4 linked regions of the Homo sapiens genome follow. The protein of the gene in region 1 purifies or fractionates together with the protein of each later gene. This does not show direct contact. Each region holds a gene or a part of one and is shown in the gene's direction. Other genes may lie near its edges.

What was found. Proteins that work in one complex are often made in the same cells at the same time.
Region 2: the proteins of ELAVL2 (region 1) and PUM2 purify together in Homo sapiens (co-immunoprecipitation; 3 studies listed by BioGRID and IntAct, with this or other methods). This does not show direct contact.
Region 3: the proteins of ELAVL2 (region 1) and RO60 purify together in Homo sapiens (co-immunoprecipitation; 3 studies listed by BioGRID and IntAct, with this or other methods). This does not show direct contact.
Region 4: the proteins of ELAVL2 (region 1) and IREB2 purify together in Homo sapiens (affinity purification with mass spectrometry; 2 studies listed by BioGRID and IntAct, with this or other methods). This does not show direct contact.

The regions. Positions count from the first base shown.
Region 1 is NC_000009.12:23,696,325-23,702,036, reverse strand, and holds part of ELAVL2 (ELAV-like protein 2), read left to right. Parts: intron 1-432; coding exon 433-658; intron 659-5,712.
Region 2 is NC_000002.12:20,249,845-20,253,410, reverse strand, and holds part of PUM2 (pumilio homolog 2), read left to right. Parts: intron 1-1,694; coding exon 1,695-1,826; 3' UTR 1,827-3,566. UniProt on the Homo sapiens protein: Sequence-specific RNA-binding protein that acts as a post-transcriptional repressor by binding the 3'-UTR of mRNA targets.
Region 3 is NC_000001.11:193,062,546-193,066,111, forward strand, and holds part of RO60 (RNA-binding protein RO60), read left to right. Parts: intron 1-3,566. UniProt on the Homo sapiens protein: RNA-binding protein that binds to misfolded non-coding RNAs, pre-5S rRNA, and several small cytoplasmic RNA molecules known as Y RNAs.
Region 4 is NC_000015.10:78,499,519-78,501,953, forward strand, and holds the end of IREB2 (iron-responsive element-binding protein 2), read left to right. Parts: 3' UTR 1-1,935; downstream 1,936-2,435. UniProt on the Homo sapiens protein: RNA-binding protein that binds to iron-responsive elements (IRES), which are stem-loop structures found in the 5'-UTR of ferritin, and delta aminolevulinic acid synthase mRNAs, and in the 3'-UTR of transferrin receptor mRNA.

The DNA.
Region 1 (5,712 bases):
TTCTGTTCTCCTTGTTTCAAGGACAGGAACTACTGTGTCCCTCATTTCTGAGCTGCTTATCCAATAGCACAAATTGAAAAATGGAACTCCGGTACACTATTGACATTAAAAGAGTGTACGGGAGGGAGGTGGGAGAGAGAGAAAACATGGACATGCTTGTGTTTTCTTGTCTTAGCTGATTGGAATGCATGTGATAATGGGTACTCAGATTATGTAAGTGACACGAATTTTTCTAAAAATGCAAAATTGTGATTCTAAACTGAATGGCTAGTAAGTAAAGGGGAAAGTTTCCTCCTGGTGTGATTTTGTGGGAAATGTTATATGTAGGTGAAAACATGTTCTTGAGAAGGAAAAATTAATGTGTCCTTTCTTCTCTCCTTCCCTTCTCCTTCTGTTCCCTCTTTTCCAAATCTTTACTCAAATCTACCATAGGCATATCAAGGGGTGTAGGGTTTATTCGATTTGACAAGCGAATTGAGGCAGAAGAAGCTATCAAAGGCCTAAATGGCCAGAAACCTCCCGGTGCCACGGAGCCAATCACTGTAAAGTTTGCTAATAACCCAAGCCAAAAAACCAATCAGGCCATCCTTTCCCAGCTGTACCAGTCTCCAAACAGAAGGTATCCAGGACCGCTAGCTCAGCAGGCACAGCGTTTTAGGTAAGTCTGGTTTGGTTCTTGTGCCCAGCTACTAAACTGAAAGAGAATACTCAGGTTTACTGTCCAGTACTTTTATTGACAGGATCTCTGGTTTGCTTTTGTCAGTGTTGTTGGTTTTATTACTATTAATTTTTCATCTCCATGGGCACAGAGAGAATCTACTTGAGGAATAGTGTCTTTTGCTAATATTGAAGGTGGGGACCAAAGGACAGTAACCTACAGCAGTGATTCTTAACCAAGGGTGATTTTTGCCTCCCAGGGAACATTTGGCAATGTCTAGAGGTATTCATGTTGGCACAACCTGTGGGGGTGCTACTAGCATGTAATGCTAGAGGTCGGGGATGCTGCTAAGCTCCTACAGTGTACAGCATAGCCCCAGCAACCAGAAGTTACCTGGTCCAAAGCACCAATAATGCTGTGGTTGAGAAATTCTAATCTGTAGCTTTCTGGGGTTATCTGAATTGTTTCCAGGGCTTCAGATTTCCTTTTTTTTTTTTCTTAAAGGATTTTATTCTCATGTGTCAATTTTTAGGTCAAGCTGTTTCTGTTACTTCACTTTATAGTATGTGCACCATTAAGGGTATATAACCTATGTGACTACGTGAAGTTTCTACAAATGAGTTCCTCTCTTCCTTTTCAAAATTGTTTACAAACAGGTTGGCAGACTTTCTCTGTACAGTACCAGATAGTAAATATTTAACTTTATGGGTTATGGTCACTGTTGCATCTGTCTTGTTTTTGTTTTTAAACAACCTGTTAAAAATGTAAAAGCCATTCTTAGCTTATAGCCCATACAGCAACAGGTGGGAGGCAGTCTCCATTTGGCCTGTCGGTTGTAATTTACTGACCTCTCTGTAGTTCATAGAATGACCGTGGCTTTAGCCCAAAGAAGACACTCTATCTCACTGACAGGTGTACATATGCTAACTGTTTAAGTTTTATTCTGATCCTGGGATAACAAACCAGGAGTCATTCAAAAAATCTCTAATCTGCATGTGAGAAGAACAGTGACTTTAAGAAGTTAAGCAGAGCAGAGAGTTTTTGGTTTCATAAGCAAGTCATGCAGTTTTTATTTTCCAGGACATTTTTAAATATCCTTTTTGGCCATATGGTACACTATACCCAGAATGCTATCTAACCCCACACTGATTTTTAAAAATTATTTCCAAGTGCATATCAATTTTATTTATTTCATTCATGGGACAGAATAGTTAATTACCAAAAATATAATCACAAATATAACCTAATAAGATCAGGAGTTATGTTTTCTAGCTTAAATCTATGCATTTATTTTTTTCATTGGAATATTTGCAGTGCTGAAGAGAGTGGAGATAAAATCAGTTAAAAATAGCTCCTTTTAAAAAAATACTAAATTATGTTGCTTGAGATATGAGAAGGAAATTTGTTATGAATGCCACATTAAATTTCAACTTAAGTTGGCCTTTGCCGTGGGAGAAGAGGTGGTACTGTCAAAAGCATTGAGCCTTGTACTTCATGCTCTGCTGTGAGGAAAAGGCATTGGTATTAAAAAAAAAAAAAAAAAAAAAAAAAAAAAAAAAAAAAAAACCTTTGCCACCTTTGACTTCCCATGGTAGTGGTGATCAGACTAGTGTGGGAGATGCGTGGGGCTGCCTGATGCTTGCCTTTGTGGAGAAAGAAGTCTCACAAAGAAAGCCCTTTTTCAGCTCTGCACATAGGTTTCCTCTGTGACATCTTAAGTGAATAATATATGTATAAATATACTTTTTTAAATTGCAAACGTAGGATGAACAAGCCTGAAGGAATTTTACAGGTATTTCCTAGGCAGCTTGTCCAGTTAATTTCAGAGCTCTTTGGGGCCTTGAAAATGATCTCGAGTTTAGATAGAACAAAGTTCTTCATAATGTATTGGTTGATTTTTAACATTGTGAAGTTATAAAATGTTTGCTGTTAGTGGAAAGCTATATTAGCTACTTTTTTTTTCCAGATTGAAGCAATGATTTTGTTTGATAGTTATTAAGTAAAACAAAGTTCTTGGAATCAAGATTGAATTCTTAGGAAGATTGAGAAGACAGGATTTGGGAGAGTGCCTGATTATTGAAATGGCAAGGCTTGTAGGTGACTCAGGTGCTAGGTTGTTGATGGGTGTCAGCCCTTAGGTTTACCTAGCCTCCATCCCTGCAGGCTCTGTGCTTTTTATTTTTGGTTGAGTAAAGCTTTACAGGATGTTCTTATGGTCAAATTTAATTATCTTTTTCTGGCCCATTCTGTGTTTTTATCTTTTAGTACCATATGTTATCATTAACTTGAAAATTCTTTTTCCTTCACTCCTATAGAAAGACATTTTGGAAGAAGAGAATAAGAGATTGTCAGTTGTAAGGGAAACTTGGTTTCAGAAAATGGGAGAAATTGTTATTCTCTCTTCAGATTTTTAACTGTTGTCCCATTCACCCCATTTCTCATTCCTCCCATGATCCCTGTCCAGATAATAAAATATGAACGAGTTAGTGTGCTCAGAGATAGTGTTTGATCTAGATTGGGTGTGTTGGAAGAAATCAGATTTCAGGTTTAACCTGATGTTTGATGCTTTTCTTTAATACAGTATATTGAACCTGGTTGTCATTATCTTGATTTCCGCCCCACTCCCCCTTCTTCTTTCACCTGATAAAGAAACTTGAATTAAGGGCTTGCTTGTTTTGTTGGTATTTTGCTGTTTTCTGTAGTTCGAGTCTAAATCATCACACAGATATATTTTGTCCCTGATATTTGTGTTTTAATGCTCTTGCCTTGAGTTTTTGTCACCTTTCAGCAGACATGTAGAAAATTTCTCACTGTATTTTTATGTTCTCATAGTACCTTGGGAGTTGAGAGAGATTGAGCAATATAAGTTATATGTATTATGGTCAAGAATACTTTTAATAATCATAAAGTATGAGCCATATCTTTTATGGTCAAAAAGCTTAAAAATCCATGTAATAAGGGTTAAGTTTAAAGGTGGGTTTGTGAGGTTTATGGCTTAGTCAATCTATGAATAATCAGAGAATTGTTGTAATATGAGCACTGCTGGTCTAATACGCTTATTTAATTGACTGCAGTTTTCAAAATAGGACAAGCCTTATTTATTTGGATGGATGGTGTAATTCAAGCCCCTTAAGTATATTCTTGGGACATGATATCAGAATTAAACTTTAAGCCAAATTTTTTCATGTTCTTTTCTGTGAAACAGCTATAATTTTATTGAATATGATCTAGTGTAATGACCTGTGTGCCTGCTTCTATGAGCCTTTATGCATTTTTTAAAAAGCCTTTTAAATGAGCACTTGAGTTGCCTTTAAGGCATGACGTACTGGTTGCATTATCACAATTTCCTTTTGGAAGAAACCGGTATCAATCCCCTTGAATACTTTTCCTCTTTCTTAGAGGACAGATGATACCATCTAATTGAATAAGGCAGTAAGGCAGTAAGAAGATGATCTTGTTGTAGATAATTTCCAAGCAGTTCTCGGTTGGCGCTTTGGAGAGATTTTGATAATCATTATTTGTGGGATTCCGAGTATATTTTCTTACCCATCAATAACTTATCTTCCTATTTTTATTTCTGACTTTAATCGGGTTCACATTTCCCCTTACTTACATGTAGGCCTTCCCATAGTCCATCAGCTAATTTTTTTAGAAATTAGGCAGGTACTTTATTTTTATTTTCTACTTATGAACACCTAGCTTTAAAATAGGAATGATCTGATACATGGTTCTGTTCAAAATTTTGACAGGTTATAATTGGAGCTTTGGTCCTGTTGATAGAAAAATGTTTATACACATCTCTCTCCTATGTGCCTTTTTCATAAATTACATATGTACATGGGCGTGTGCTATTCATTAAATTATAAACTCTAATCAAACATAAAAAAGGATAAAGATGAGACAATCTGTATTAAATGTCTTGCTAATTACTATACTGGTTGGCTTCATTTTCCATGTACCTAATATCTTAATAAATGTCTTTTAAAGCAAGACCATAAAATAATTTCAGATATCTCATCTGACTTCATGTGATGCATGTTGGATTATCTTGTGTCTAACCTTATAATGTAGCTTGTACTAAGAGTAGGAGAAATAATCGGCTCTCCCTTTCCTTATTTACTTGTATTTCCCTTACTGGTACCATTCTTTACTCTGATTTACATTTGTAGTAATCTTTTTTTAAGTTACTTTTTCTTTAAATGGAGGTCATTTTAATTAAAGCAGGTTATCCAGTCTAATCCTCCATATCTGCTTGCTGTGTTATTTGTAAAATGGATTTTGTTCAGGCTAAAGAGCAGGAGAGAGTGCCACTCGCCGCCTCTCCCCTTCGATGATTGCTCAGTCTTCCCCCAGGGAGGCAGGTGATACACAGGACTGAGAAGGTACTGGGTTCAGTGCATCTATTAAATATAAGTAAAAAATACTTTATTTTAAATACATATTTATTTTATATTTTATTTTAAATATATATTTAATGGATACTTTAATATTTACCTTCCATATGTACTACGTTATCATCCACACCCCTCCCTGAGATATTCTGGAGGCAGCTAGCTTGCTCTCCATTTAAAAATTGACTTCCATTTATAAATGACCATAAATAAAAGATGGCTGGGCGTGGTGGCTCACTCCTGTAATCCCAGCACTTTGGGAGGCCAAGGCGGGTGGATCACGAGGTCAGGAGATCGAGACCATCATGGCTAAATGGTGAAACCCCGTCTCTACTAAAAATACAAAAAAAATTAGCCGGACGTGGTGGTTGGGTGCCTGTAGTCCCAGCTACTCGAGAGGCTGGGGCCAGAGAATGGTGTGAACCCGGGAGGCAGAGTTTGCAGTGAGCCGAGATCACGCCACTGCACTCCAGCCTGGGTGACAGAGCGAGACTTCGTCTCAAAAATAAATAAATAAAATAAAAAGATGTCCTTGAGCAGTGGACAGACCCAGCAGACATATTTCTAGGGGCTTGTTGTAGTAGTCCTTGTGTTTGAGCTGCTGCACTATTTTCTCTTACAACTGCCTGTGTTACAGTTTGCCAACTGCTACTGGATTTGGAG
Region 2 (3,566 bases), on another chromosome or scaffold:
GACAACATAGACCCCCATCTCTACAAAAAATTTAAAAATTAGCTGGGTATGACGATACATGCCTGTGGTCCCAGCTACTCAGGCAGCTGAGATGGGAGGATCGCCTGAGTCCCGGAGGTTGAGGCTACAGTGGGCTGTGTTCATGCCAGTGCACTCCAGTCTGGGCAACAGAGCAAGACCCTGTCTCAAAAAATAAATCAGTCATTCAAAAGAAATTCTTAAGGAATCATATTCATTTCTCATCTGTTACCTATGTTTTACATTGTTCTTTTTGCCTTCATCTTATTTAACTGTACAGTTGCCCGTCAGTAACTGGGGGATTGGTTGCAGGACCCACCCACTCCTGTGCCAAAATTCACGGATGCTCAAGTCCCTTATATAAAATAGCGTATAGTATTTGCATATAACCTAAACATATCCTCCCATATACTCATCTCAAGATTACTTAACGATACCTAATACAGTGTAAGTGCTATGTAAATAGTCATACTGTAATGATAAGTAAAAAATCTGTTTAATACAGACTTTGTCATTTTTAAAAATATTTTTGATCAGTGGTTGAATCCACATATGCAGATGGCAAACTACATTTAATTTACCATAATACATGGGTTGAACATTGATTTTAACCTAATACATTTTTCTAAGTAGAATTTTGTGTTTATGTTGTGGGGAGGTAGTACTAACTCATAAAATTCCCTTTAAGCTGTTTCCTCTCTGTATCCTCCTCCTAGAATCTAATAATTCTTTAAGAAATTAGTAATTGCAGCAGGAAAACTTATAAAGAAAACTGAAAGAACACTGAAAAAAACACTTATTTTGAATACTCTTGATCTTAATGAATTCATTTACAAAACATGAATTACATAACCCCTTTGGTCGTCTCCTCATATAGAGAGAAAAATGATATCTTAGGATTCCTTCCATCTGTAAAAGTGTTTTGGTCTTCTGATTTTTAAAATTCATTCTTCAACTTGATGTAAGTTTTCCTTTCTTTTTCTTTCAAGACAGGGTCTCTGTTGCACAGGCTGGAGTGCAGTGGTGTAATCTCGGCTAACTCTAGCCTCAACTTCCTGGCTCAAGCCATCCTCCCACTTTAGTCTCCTTAGTAGCTGAGACTACAGGCATGCATGCTTTTAGTTTTGTTTATATTTTGTAGAGATGCGGTCTCGCTATGTTGCCCAGTCTGGTCCCAAAGTACTGGCCTCTAAGTGTCTACCTATCTTTTAATTGAGTGTTTCTGCTGTAAACTAATGAATATAAAAAATTGCAATCTTATTTTTAACAGCTGCGTTAGTTATTTAACTGGTATCATATTTATTATATTTGGATCCTCCCTAATTGTTTAATTGTTATAAGTAGTGCTTTGTACAAAAGTCTTTTTGTAATTTTTTTGGTGGAATAAATTCCTGGATGTGGAATTACTGGGTAACTTTCTTGCTATGTTTGGGGCCTCTGCCTGTTTCCACGTGACATAGTTAGATGTAGTGTTTTATTCATTGAACAATTTCGAGAACAGATGTTTGGAGGGATTGAGCAGATCACAACTGCTTTTGCAAAAAGTAGCTTTCTTTGGATTTAAATTTTTTTTAATTGCAGTTATTCCTCTAAATTACCCAGAATTGGGGGTGCTTTTTTAAGAAATCAGAAACTAAAATGACTTAGATTTTCTAAGCAGATTATTTGTTTTTCAGATTCGACCTCACATTACTACTTTGCGCAAATACACATACGGGAAGCATATACTGGCCAAGTTGGAAAAGTATTATTTGAAGAATAGCCCGGACCTAGGACCTATTGGAGGACCACCAAATGGAATGCTGTAAATTACAGGAGCAAGAGAAAGAAGATAATTTAACCATGTGAAAAGAATTTTTTTGTGTGTGAATTATCAAAACACAACTCAACTATGAATCTTCAATTTTTTTTTAAAGCAAAACTATTTATTGACTTTATTCATCCATTTGTAAATTTTTTAAGGTTCTTGTGTATATTTGGGGGGTGGGGGATGAATTATAAATTATATTCAGCCCTGAGTGGAGACCTATCAGATTGGATTGCTGGCAAAGCACAGAATGCCTGTATATGATGTAACTGTATCAAAAATAAAAAGCTGTCACATATTTTGTAAATTTTTACCTTGTAAAGTCACAAAAATAGTTTTTAAAGGAAAAAGTACAGTATTCTTTTAATAAACTGGCTCACAGTCTGGTAGGTCTACAACCCCATAGCACAACAGGTTTATAGAGATGTATATAGAATTATAGTCCTTATTTTTTTCCTTTGCGTGAAACCTTTTATAACAGATTAACAATCAACTGCATAAATATTATTAATATTTTAAAAAGAGTTAAGTTGTATTTTGATAATTCACAAACTATCATGCAAATAACGAGTAAGTAGACAAGAATAAAGTGGTTTGAGATGAAAAGAACCTAACATTATTTACAGTAGATGTGGTTTTAATACAATTACTGCCCTAAAATGTCTCTGGCAATGTACAGAAATATTGTATATACTTACATATGTAATTGTTGTAAGAGTTAAATACAAAATCATGGTGACACTTCCAATTAAGTGCACTAAATGAAAAGTTAAGTCACTTATTAACTTTTCAGTTTGGTTTGCAATGAGAAAGAGTGGAAATTTGTATTTTGTTTTGCTTATAGAATTACAGACATGTTGAGGAAGTGTTGAGCTTTATTTTGCTTTTTCATAGAGGCAGAAAGTAGGAACCAGATAGAGATGAAAAGGGGCCACTGAAAAGTGAATTTGATAGCTCAGCATTTAAGCATGATTACATATTCAGATAGCTCTTTTTGCTTTCTATAAATATATGCATTGTGTGTGTAGTAATAGATGTAAGTTTACACTTTGAAAGGAAATCTTGTTTCAATGTTTATTATAAAAGCCTTGCTAATTTAGTAGTGATGCTTTCCTTGGTTGTACAGGTGTACATTTGTAAACCTTCATGCTGTAAATGGAATTTGTTTTATCTCTTTGGGATACATTTGCATTTTAGTGTACATTTACGTCCCTGCCCTCTTTGACCTGGCAATATAGTGTTGTATAATGTAAATTTATTTCTCCAAATCGAGAGTGATTTTTTAAAAATTTTTTATCTTTATATGGTTTCAGAAGTATGAACCAGCTTTCTTTTTATTATTGTGAGATCATTTTGTTTTATAACATAGTTGTTGACTGTTAATATGGACCTGCTAGAATTTGGATCACTTTCAATTGAAGTCAGGGTATTGTGCATAATAGAAAGTATTGGACTGAGATATTTGGTTACCATGGAGGCCAATGCTTTTTTCATCTTATTAAATGTGATGTGACTTTTTTCTTTGTACAGAAGAGTACTGTATTTTTGAATAGCCTACTCCCAAGTAAGAGCAAATCTGTATGATAACATTTTTTCCTCTGGACATAAGACATAACAGTAACACGATGTACATTTACAAGCGGCCTTATGTACATTTCCCAACAATCTTTTTAAGGCAAAATTGTGACCATATGTGTATAATTAAAATCGTTTTTAATCCTTTGCCTATGAAAATATTTTG
Region 3 (3,566 bases), on another chromosome or scaffold:
AGTTCACTATTTTGAAGTATCCAGTGCATTGGGTTCTAGTATATTCACGGAGTTGTGCAGTCATCACCACTAATTTCTGAACATTTTCATCACCCAAAAAGAAATCCCCTACCCATTAGCAGTCACTTCCCAGTGTTCCCCCACTCCGACAGCCTCTGACAACCTTAGACTAATGTACTTTTTATTTCTATGAATTTACCTACTCTGGAAAATTCATATAAATGGAATTGTAATACAATATGTGGCCTTTTGTGACTGGCTTCTTTGACTTGGCATAATGTTTTCAAGGTTTGTTTACATTGTGTCATGTATCACTACTTCATCCCTTTTTATTGTCTAATAATAGTCCATTGTATGGATATACCATATTTTTTTCATCCCTTCATCAGTTGATGGACATTTGGGTTGCTTCTCCTTTTTGACCGTTATGAGTAATGTTGATAAAAACATCTGGATACAACTTTTGGTTTAGATACATGTATTCATTTTTCTTAGGTGTGTGGTAGAATTCCTCGGTCATATGCTAACTATATTTAACCTTTTGAGAAACTGCCAGACTGTTTTCCAAAGTGGCTGTATGATTTTACATTCCCACCAGCAGTATATGAGCGTTTCATTTTCTCTAAATCCTCACCAACACTTAATATTATTGTTTTGATTATAGCTGTCCTAGTGGATGTGAAGTGGTATCTTATTGTGGTTTTGATTTGCATTTCCCTGATGACTAATGATGTTCGTCATCTTTTTATGTGTTTACTGGCCATTTGATAATCTTCTTTGGAAAAACACCTTTTCAGATTCTTTACCCATTTGTGTGTCTTTGGAGTAATATTCACATCTTTTGCCTATTTTTACTTGGGTTATTTATCATTTTATTATTAAGTTGTAAGTGTTCTTAATATATTCTAGATACAAGTCACTTATTGTATGTATGATTTGCAAATATTTTCCTTTTTCTTGGGTTGTCTTTTCACTTTCTTGATGGTGTCCTTGGAAATACAAGTTTTAAATTTTGATAAAGTCCAGTTTATTTTTTTATTTTGTCACTTTTGCCTTTGGTGTCTGCGTTCCAACACTAATTCTGTAGCATCAGCTGGGTGTCCCCCACTTCCGTTTAGTTCTGGCACTAGCTGCCCAGGGTTGGCATCAGATCCCACAAATTAAAGGACAAGGTCCCCACTAAGAATGCCATTAATTTGGACACCAGCTGTAAATGGGGTCCCCAGGCTACTCACACTTCTGCCCTGCGGACTACAAATTCAAGACTTCCCATAATCCCCTCAAGGCTGATAGTTCACTAGAATGACTCACATAACTCACTGAAAGTGCTCTACTTGCAATTACAGTTTTATTATAAGGGATACAACTCAGGAACAGCCAAACAAGAAGTAGACACATATGGCAAGGTCTGGGGCAAGGGAAGGATGCAGAACTTCCATGCCATCCTTGTGAAATGTGGGATACAACTCAGGAACAGCCAAACAGGAAGTAGACACATATGGCAAGGTCTGGGGCAAGGGAAGGATGCAGAACTTCCATGCCCATCCTTGTGAAATGTGGGCACATCACCTTCCCAGCACATCAGTTTTTGTTCACCAAGGATGCTCCACTGAGTATCGATGAAGAAAGTTTTTATGAGGTTTCATCACATGGGCATGATTGATTAAATCATTAGCTACATGGCTGAACTTGATCTCAAGTCCTCCTCCTTTCATGGAAGGTTGGCCTGACCAGTTTATTCCTCTAAACATATAGTTGGTCTTTCTAGTGATTAGCCCCCATCCTGAAGCTACCTAGGGGCCCATGTTGCCTCATTAATGTAACAAAGACACTCCTATTTCTCAGGAAATACCACGGGTTTTTGAAACTTTCTGCTGGGTATTATGTCCAAAGACCAGGTACTCTCTCTTATAAGATGCCACAGTATCACATCACTTTGCCGAATTTTGAGTTTATGTGTGTATCACACTCAGTGACAAGAAGGAGAGTAACTTGGGACATGTTATTCTGTTTTCTGTCTTTTAAAATATGAATATGACCCTGGTAAATTTATATAATCAAGTAGGAAGGTGCCCTGGCTGCTAATAATGTTATCTGTTCCACTGTTTTATGTTGCACTCTGGAAAGTACAGTCACAGAAGCATAGGAAAACCTGAGCAGTTTCTGCTGCAGAAATACTGAAAGGGTATGTCCTCAGGGTTGTCATTTATATCATAACATGCAAAAGGAAGAGTCCATGAATAAGTAACTTTATTTCTTCTAATAGGGATTATAAGGATTATACTTAGAGATTACCTCTTAGACATCCTTCATAGATTTAAAAGTTCATTTTGCTGCTTGCTCTAGAGAAGTACCTGAATACCTAATATTAAATATGTTAGAAAAACAGAAATTTTGTTCTTAGATGACATTTTTACTCAGTATTCATTACTTTTCTTTAGAACTTTATTTTTTCTTGATTATATTTTTCACTACCTGCATATAGTACATTTATCATTCTGATTACAGAATTTATCTTAAAGACTTGTATTATATTTTGCATTATAAATATTGAGGCTTTTATTCTCAAAATGTGTTATGGGAAAGAGAAACCAATTGTGCATAATTATTTGGCAAATGGTTCAGAAAGTCAACTTTAATGATATTTGGCTTTAAGTATGTATTGCTAATTACATAAAAGCAATACAAAAGAGGAGACAAAAATGATAAGATTTGGTTTCTACTTTCAAGGGAACCAATAATGTAGCTACATGTGGTCACAATGAATAATACAAGGAAAAGAATTTGAGGGGAGAGGGAATTTTGAGGTTTGGTTTGGGACCTTTTAAATCCCACCACTTGGGCCTTGGTGCAGGAAAGCAAGTTTAGTAGAATTATCTGATATTAGATGTCATTTCAGTGTTACTCATCTAACAAATAAAACTAATAAGCAGAAGTAGACAGGTTGAAGTGCAACCAGAGCCTGTTTTTATGAAAGCTGAGGGAGAGACTAGCAAAGTCTATGTAATGTAAAGATCAGAAAAACATAACATTGTCTACTGGAATTGGCAATTAAGGTATCAGTCTTTGAGAAGCATGTTAGTCTTCTTAAAGTGTTTTGGATCGAAAGGTAGAGATAAAAGCCAAATTTGAAAAGAGGATAATAATAAATAGGAGAACAGGCATCCACTGCAACAGGAGTTTCAACCTATGCTGTATTCAGTAACTATGAATTTGTCCCTAATGACTAATATGATCATTACATCTCTGATGCCACCTGAGACCTAGGCTTCCACTAACATAAGCAAATTTATACTAGCGTCTTATTTGGAATATTGACACTAATATTCCGAACACAATTCAGATCACTGTCCCCCTCAGTCACATTCAAAATGTGAGGCTCTTCATTCTCCCATGCACTTATCCCTACACCACTATGTGTTCCCCTCTCTGAGACCCAGTCTTTCATTCCTCCCCTCTCTACCAAACTTCTCCACATACCATTTGGCATTCTACATCTCCTGTCAGGGGGGAATGTCTTCAGTTTCCTTATCCCTCATTCCTTCAAATCTATCTTTACCTATACT
Region 4 (2,435 bases), on another chromosome or scaffold:
GAAACTACCAAACCAGTGGATGAAGACCACTAAGAACTTTGCACATAATCATACAATCTTTTGAAAATATTTTGCAAATATGTGTTTAGACAATAAGATGGACTAGAGTTCGACAAAATGATTTCTTTATTTAAATTTTGTATAAGTATTTTCTTCGACACTTTCAAATTATATTGTGTTCTTGATATATGCTGTATATTTATTTGTTAGTGCATGTGTTTTTAATTTACATGAAAACATGAGTTAGGAGAAATTACAGGTTGAAAGATGAAATGCCTGTATGTGCTCTGAAGAAATGGTAATTCCAGATTGTGCAGGGGGAAACAAATCTATTTTGTTTTGTTTTGTTTTTTGAGACGGAGTCTTGCCCTGTGGCTGGGCTGGAGTGCAATGGCGCGATCTTGGCTCACTGCAACCTCCGCCTCCCGGGTTCAGGGGATTCTCCTGCCTCAGCCTCCTGAGTAGCTGGGACTACAAGCATGCACCACCACGCCCAGCTAATTTTTGTAGTTTTAGTAGAGATGGGGTTTCACCATGTTGGCCAGATGATCTGAATCTCTTGACCTCGTGATCCGCCCGCCTTGGCCTCCACAAGTGCTGGGATTACAGGTGTGAGCCACCACACCCGGCCTATATTGTTTTGAAAGCATACTCTATATATAGTTATGGGCAGAGGCACAGGCATCCTCAGCAGCTGATTCAGGAGATGATGGTAAAGCTAGCTAACTATGAATTAAACATTCACATATCCAGTCTACCTGGTCCAGTAATAATACAAGCAAATCTTGTATTTCAGGAACAAATCAAGGTTCTCTTAATTTTTTGGCTTATATACAATGAAGTAAAAACTTGATAAACATGGTTTCAAATTGAGGAGGAGAGTCTTGGATGTATGTTTTAATATGTATACCTTATAATTCTGCCTCTAGCCAAATGCTATGTTTGCAAAATGTGGCATCTGTTAGTTTTTATTGTCTGTGTCTTCTTTGTTTACTATACCTTGGGTAATTTTGTGTTACCAAAAAAAAAAAAAAAAAAAGGAAGTGTAATGTCAGACACACAAGAAAAGCAAATCAGTGTTGTAAGCTTAAAGTACAATTTCAAAGGTCACTACCAACAGCAGGGTTTTTTTTATACTTTGAAAACATTATGCTACATATCATTGCCATTTTCATATTTTGGGGTTTTGCTACTCTTATACAATGGAATCAATGGAAATGTCATCCAGCCACTGAATTGCCATTATTATATCTAAAAAGTTTCTAAGATGACAGTTATCACTATTTTGTTTTATCTCCATGCTGACATTTGAAAGAAGGTACTAGTATCCCTCTAGCCAGATTGCTTAGTTTTTCGTTGGTAATCAAACAACAGTTGTACTAAAGGAAAGTAAAGCTAGGACCTAAATCAGAATCATAGTTGCCTGCATATATGGTAACAAGGTCGTGTGCATTTGCTTTCACAGTGATGAGTGAGAGGATGAGAAGAAATTATTTGACATTTTTCTGTGGTTGAATAGAAGACACCTTTCTTTTGTCTTTAGGTTTAGGAGGAGATACTAAGATACTGGATGTTTATCCTATCTTAGTTTGGTTGGAGTAATAAGAGAGAAGAAGAGGGTGGACTTTGGCTTTTCAGTGTTTTTTCCCCTAAAGAGTGATATTGCTGACGTTTCTATCAATTTTACACATAATATGTGGCTATGAAACCATATATCTCACTTAAGTAACAAAGTAATCACTTTGTCTATCACTAAGTAATAGACAAAAATCATTGTCTATTATTTAAAGCCAACAAAACAGTGTAACAGTTTTAAGTTCAATAATGTTAAGTATTGTATAGAAATATATTGGAGGCAAAGTTCAGTTGATGACAATTGTGTATATGTTACTGATGCTGTAAATTATTTTTAATAAAGAAAATTGTATTATCACATTTGATTCTTGTTCTGTTTTGTAGTAGTTGAAAATAAAACAACATGATGTAAAAAATATGCTGCCATCCGGCTGGGCACGGTGGCTCACGCCTGTAATCCCAGCACTTTGGGAGGCCGAGGCAGGCGGATCACGAGGTCAGGAGATCGAGACCATCCTGGCCAACACAGTGAAACCCTGTCTGTACTAAAAATACAAAAAAATTAGCCGGACATGATGGCGGGCGCCTGTAGTCCCAGCTACTTGGGAGGCTGAGGCAGGAGGATAGCATAAACCCGGGAGGCAGAGTTTGCAGTGAGCAGAGTTCACGCCACTGCACTCCAGCCTGGGCGAAACAGTGAGACTCTGTCTCAAAAAAAAAAAAAAAAAGCAAAAATGAAATGTCCCGCCATCCAGATGCCATCCAGGAGCAGCTGAGGATGCCTGCTCCCTGTGCTGCCCGTTCATTAGTGTTCATGAAACAAGTCATCGGAAGCTGGGAGCCAGGATCCCAGGTGTATT